Linked DNA regions of Homo sapiens: region 2 is linked to region 1. The links come from fine-mapping of genetic effects on gene expression. A gene starts in region 1. The other region holds a variant in brackets. All regions are shown on one strand. Distances are between the middles of the regions.

Region 1 (2,917 bases):
TTAAATGTTAGCCTCCTGGAGTGCATGGCAATTGGTTTTGACCTCTATATTAAAATTCACAAGACCACGGACATAAGTCAAAACAGGTCCCCTTCGTCTCCCTAGTCACCATCTCCAGGGCTAAAAAACAGACTTGAAATGGGTGGCAGTTAGACTACAGGAAACAGGATCTACAAGCACCAGGAGCTCATCTATGGCTATCTGACATCGCCTGGGGACACCTCACTCTCTGGCAGGCTCCTGCTGGCTGGAGATTGTTAACATCGCCAATCAGATGTTAATTGAATGCAAAGGAATAGGAAATAAATTCTGGTTCTGAAGGGGCAGCTGGAAAGGTGTTGGGCTTCTCAGATTCCAACCTACATTACAAAGCAGGCCTAAAGCCAAGCATACTCCTTGCCAGAAGAAACGGAAAGCCCCTCTCCCGTTTTTAGAATCAGGCTGGAAAACACGGCTCCCAGAAGGTGGGGTTAGAAAACAAGAGCTTGCGAGGCGGCGCCCTGTGGTCCCTCGAGGAAATAGTAGAGAGACAAAGAGGGCCTGCTCCTGGGAAGCCCTAAATTCGAAGCCAATCCTTCCTCCTAGACATGACCACAACTTTAAAGGGCAGGGCGCACACCTCCCCTCCCGGATCTCTAGGACAAAGGCAGGTCGAGGGTAAATATTTCTAGTTATTCAGTATATTCAGTGGCTAACTATTTATTTTGTGGGTACCAGACACCGACATAATCGGTTACGTCCTTCCCTTAATTCTCATAATTCTGAGGTTTGTGTTATTAACCCCCTATTATCTTTGGTCTACCCAGGGCAGCCAAAGAGGCGCAGAGAAGAATGACAAGGTGCCCAGCAAGCGGCAGGATCAAAGCCTGGGTCTCTAATTCCCAGGCTGGAGATTCTGGGCTGCCTGCTCCTCCTGCACGGGGCGAAAAGCCCACCTGGGATCCGAGCGGGCGGCCGCGCCACTCTCGCAGGCTCCATACACCCGCCACTACCCGCCTGTACCACCTGCAGCCGGCAGCGCAGCCTCCTCGCGGGTCCCGCAGGGCGCGCTGCAGGTGCGCTGGGCGTCCCGAAGCCCCGCCCTCGCGTCCCTGCCCCGCGCCCAGCTCCTCACGCTCGGTGCCCGCGCCCCGCAGCGGCAGCGCAGAACGCACCGCCTCTGCCAGAGCCCGGGAAGCGCTCGGGCGAAGAGGAGGAGCCAAGGGTACCGAGCGGGTGGAGTCGGGAGCCGGAGAGCGGTGGAGGCGGATTTCCTGGGCCCGGCCCTCTGGCGCTACCATGGCGTTTGGCAAGAGTCACCGGGATCCCTACGCGACCTCCGTGGGCCACCTCATAGGTAAGGAGGCGCGGGGAGAGACGCCCAGGCAGGCAGGGGACCGTGGGATCCTTTCCTGCTTGATCCATTCTCGGCCTGCAGAGGACGGAGTTAGTCCAACTTGAAAAAATTATTCCCCTCCCCCCGCAACTTTCCCAAGGCACCCGCATTCCACCCGGCCCCCTTTCGTCGTTTCCTTCTTGGCCAACTCACTGTAGAACCTCAGTCCTCAAAAATGTACCTTCCTTTCGATGCCGCCTGGGGAGTGGAACCAAACAGGTGAACCGCGGGAGTCAGGCATGGAGTGTTTGGGCCTCCACGAGGAGACACCAGAAACTTCTCGGTAGGGGAAGTTATTCCTAAAGGCACATTCTCCAGGGCACGGTATTGTTATGCCCGTTTTACAGATCAGAAGAGGAGGCTCTGGGAGACTAAGTGATGTGGCCTTACTGTGAGGGGCAGGTCTCCCCAAACCAGTTTTCTCTAGTGCCAAGCTTATACAACCTGGATTACTTTTCTGGGTAAACAAAGAGAATGAAAATGCTTGGCATTGGAGTGAAGAGGAGGGGAACATAGGAGCCATCTGGGGCCACGGAGGTCTCTCGCAGGCCACTAGGGACTACACCAGCATCCACCTAAATGATTTCTCTCTCCTCCGGATGTACCTTGCATGATGTATGTAGAAGCCAGTGATTGGACTCCTACCAGCACCAGCTCACTGCTCCTTCTTTTCCCTGATTCCTCCCTTGGGAATTGGGTGTGGCACGAGTGCATATTAATGCCAGGCAAAGTGTGATGATGTCAGGAACTTAGTGGGGTGATGAAATCGTGAGAACCTAGTAGTTGTAGTAAAGAGGCCCAGATTTGGAAAATTTAGATCACAGCTCTACTAACTGCTGTGACACCGAACACACCACTTAAACAGAACCTTAGTTTACACATCCTTATAAGATGGTCAGAGTAGCTACCATTGAGGAGATGCTTTCCCTTAATGGCTGTGCTTTTTTGGATATTAGAATGAACCCCAAGCAGAAATGGATTCAGACTGTGTCTTCATAGGCAAACGAAACTTCAGCAGTTCTTCTGCTTAATTTTTTAATTCTGTAAACATGGACTAACTGTCAGCTATGTGCCTGGACCTGGATCAGGCACTGGTGAGGCCAAGGTGAGACGTGGTCTCAAACCTGAGGGAACTCACTTTCTTGTAGAGAAGACGGGCACAGTTTTGTGTGGCACCTTTGCAATGCAAGAAAATGCAAAACACACAAAACTTAGGAGAAGGGAGAAATGAATTCTGCGTGGCTTTTGAAGGGTGAATAGGAGTTTTCTTTTCTAGGGAGGTAAGCTTTGTCCATTCGGTGCCAGATTCAAGTTTTTTGTTGTTGTTGTTTTGTTTTTGTTTTTGTTTTTGTTTTGAGACGGGGAGTGACACCCAGGCTGGAGTGCAGTAGCTCTCGGCACACTGCAACCTCCGCCTACCGGGTTCAAGCACTTCTCCTTCCTCAGCCTCCCGAGTAGCTGGGACTACAGGCACATGCCACCACGCCAGGCTAATTTTTGTATTTTTAGTAGAGATGGAGTTTCACCATGCTGGCCAGGCTG
Region 2 (2,917 bases), 290 kb after region 1:
TCAGAGACGAAGTGAGGCCACGGTCAAGTTACGTGCCCCAGATGGAAGGAGACAGTTTAGTCTGAAAGAGTGAAGGCTGAGTTATGAAGTAATTCTTGTTGAAAATAAACCTATACAAGTAATTAAATTTGGAATATCAGTCCTCTCTGACATTGGCCAGTTCTGTGGCCCTATTCAAACAAGATTACGCTCTGAAAAACAGATGCTAGACGAAAAATATGAGAAAGTATAAGAGTCATCTATGTGCTACCCAGGTGGTGTGATTCAGTGGGAAGAGTGACTGTAAATTGGATTAAACCTGGGTTAGAATCCTAGCCTTGCCCCACAGTACCTCTTAGTCATGCCACTTACCTTCTGAACATCATTCTCCTCTCTAGAAGAGTAGAGAAAATAACACTTATTATATATTGTTGAAAGTAGGCAGTTCAGTAAGTGTTACTTTCCTTTCCTCTAGGCAGTAGGCCACTGGAGAAAAGAATTGATAGGGAAACTTTCTAAACGGGGAAAAAATTGGCTAGATTTCCAAGTGGGGAAATTTTACTGTTGGGATAATTTGGTTTTAGAAAGGAATACTGAAGGTAGGAATCCTCAAGAATTGGAATCTCTAGTGAATCACTTTAATTCTACAAATACTTATTGAACACCATAATGTGACAGGTATTGTCCTGAACCCAAGGATACAGCAAGGAACAGAACAATCCCTGCCCTCAGAGAGCTCACAAGCTCTCAGGAAAGATATTCATTAAATGTCTGCATGTGTGATGAGCATTTTGAAAGGGTTCCAGGGAAGCATAGGGGTGCACAAGACCTCATGTATACTGTCAAGGATGGCCTTATCTGAGAAAGATTCGTTGATGCTAATAATGAATGAATAAGTAGGGATACAATGGTCAATTTCACATTCCCCACCACCACTATTCATATGCCACAGATATGTCTGACATTCCTGCTACATGCCAAGCCCTGAAGAGACAGAGATAAAAGAGAAACTATAAAGTCTGTGATCTCCCAAGGCCTCAAACCCCACAGAAGAACAAAAGTAATTGCATAGATGCCAAATAATATCATAAATAAAGGGTTTTGAAAACAAAGGAAGGAATGGTGGATCTGCTCCCGAGGGAGATAATAAGCATGCCAAGGAGGAGATCCAGCATTGTGGTTTGGGTGGCAATTTCCACGCTACTCCCTGAGCTTTTACACTGTGTATATAAGTGAGACCTGCAGTGCCAGCTGGTATTGTTAACAACTCAAGGCATTAATGTAATACAGTGATGCCCTCAGAAAAAAAATAGAGCTGATAAAGAAATTAA[C/T]GTGTTCAAAAATACACACTTCATCTGCTGACTTGCTCACATTTCCTTCACACATGGTGGGGTTTACTCAGAGCCAGAGAGAATGACCGTAGCAGTAAAGTGAAACTCACAAGTGATAGTCAGGGGAAAGGCCAATCCCCACCCTAGCCTCATTTACTGAGCAACTGGAGAGCTTCCATTTTCAGAGCCCTTTCCAGTCTTCAAAGTATCTTCATATTCCAATTTTATTGGTTCTTCCCAACAAATCCTAAAACAAGGAGTGCAGATCTTTTATTCCCATTATACAGATGAGGAAGCTGAAACTCAGGGTAGATAGGTTCTTTCTAGAGTCATGTGGCTGGAGAGTGCTGAAGGGACTATTAGAACCCAAGTCTGATTTTCGCTTTACTGATCTAATACCCCAGGACAGGGCTTCTCAAACTACAATGTGCATATGTGCCACCTGGGAGCCAATATGCAGAATCTGATTCATAAGTCCGGGGTGGGACCTGAGATTCTGCATTTCCAGCTCTGTGACACCAGCTGGAGAAAACGCATTCTTCCTGATGAAAGATAATCATAGTCTGTGTTTCCCAGATGAAATTTCTTCAAATGGTTATGACAATGGAGGATCCTTCTTATTTTTTCAAAATACCAAATAGTGGTCCCTCAACAACTTCAACCTAAGCAATACTTATTTCCCTGACACTTCAGGGGACATAGACGTCTTCTGTTATAGTTCATCTGTCTCTGTTCTCATCCCCATCTCTCTTAGTCTCTTTCTGCATCTACCTCAGTCTCTGACTCTTTTTCTATTACTCTTTCTCATACTTGACCACCAAACTATGTCCTTGAATGTACAGTGTCAAGTTGAGGTGTTCTCCGATACCAACAATCAATTCTCTGATTCTCCAGGCACTAACTCAAGATATCCAGCAATTCAATTCAATTCTCACACTGCTCAGAGATAGTGCAGATCCCACAGCTTAAGAGCTCAGTCAAACAAGGCTTCCCCCAATTTCAGGCACCAGTCAAAAATCCCAGGCCCCCTGTATTTCTGACTGATTGGTTACAAATTGTACGTTTCCACAACATCTTTCTTATGCTTGATAATTTGCTAGAACAGTTCACCCAACTCAGGAAAGTGCTTTACTTACTATTAGCAGTTTATTATAAAGGATATAACTCAAGAACAGCTAAATGGAAGTGACAAATAGGGCTAGGGATTGTGCTATATAAGTTTGTGAATTATGTAATTTAATCATAACCAAAACCAAAAGAAATACGTGCTATTGAATCCAATAAAAAATTCTGTCTGTCTGAGTTCTGAGTGAATTGATAAAAAGACAAAGGGACTAAATGTATCATCTCTATTATTGATAAACTATAGGTTGGAGGATAGAGTGTATATTTTCAGATGAATGGCTTTTCCAATACTACATCCCAGAAGTAAATAAACTCACAGGTATCCTGGAACCACAGCAGACCTCTCAATGGAAAGGCAATCCACTGTAAAATGTATGGCATGACAGAAGTGGACTTACTTCATGTGAGCAACGTGGTGTCAAGAGGAAGAAAGGGAGGGACAATTGAATGTGCTCAATTTGAAAGTTGTTCTTCCTAAATTA

The links. PIP is the estimated chance that this variant, and not a neighbour inherited with it, causes the effect.
Region 2: its variant is the best candidate, but not a certain one, in a credible set for the expression of TOM1L1 in lung (TOPMed, PIP 0.66).

What each region holds. Positions count from the first base shown.
Region 1 is chr17:54,899,588-54,902,504 of GRCh38, forward strand. TOM1L1 (target of myb1 like 1 membrane trafficking protein) reads left to right here and starts at 1,265. Exons shown (of 16, transcript NM_005486.3): 1 at 1,265-1,336. The coding sequence starts at 1,279. It overlaps LOC124904033 (a long non-coding RNA gene), which reads right to left and starts at 1,150. Exons shown (of 2, transcript XR_007065854.1): 1 at 1-1,150. RefSeq lists a silencer at 940-1,279 and enhancers at 1,360-1,469, 1,490-1,579.
Region 2 is chr17:55,189,544-55,192,460 of GRCh38, forward strand. It overlaps a transcript of STXBP4 not described here. Among named protein-coding and RNA genes, the nearest start is that of HLF, 74 kb to the right of the region's middle. The variant C/T (reference allele first, on the strand shown) is at 1,311.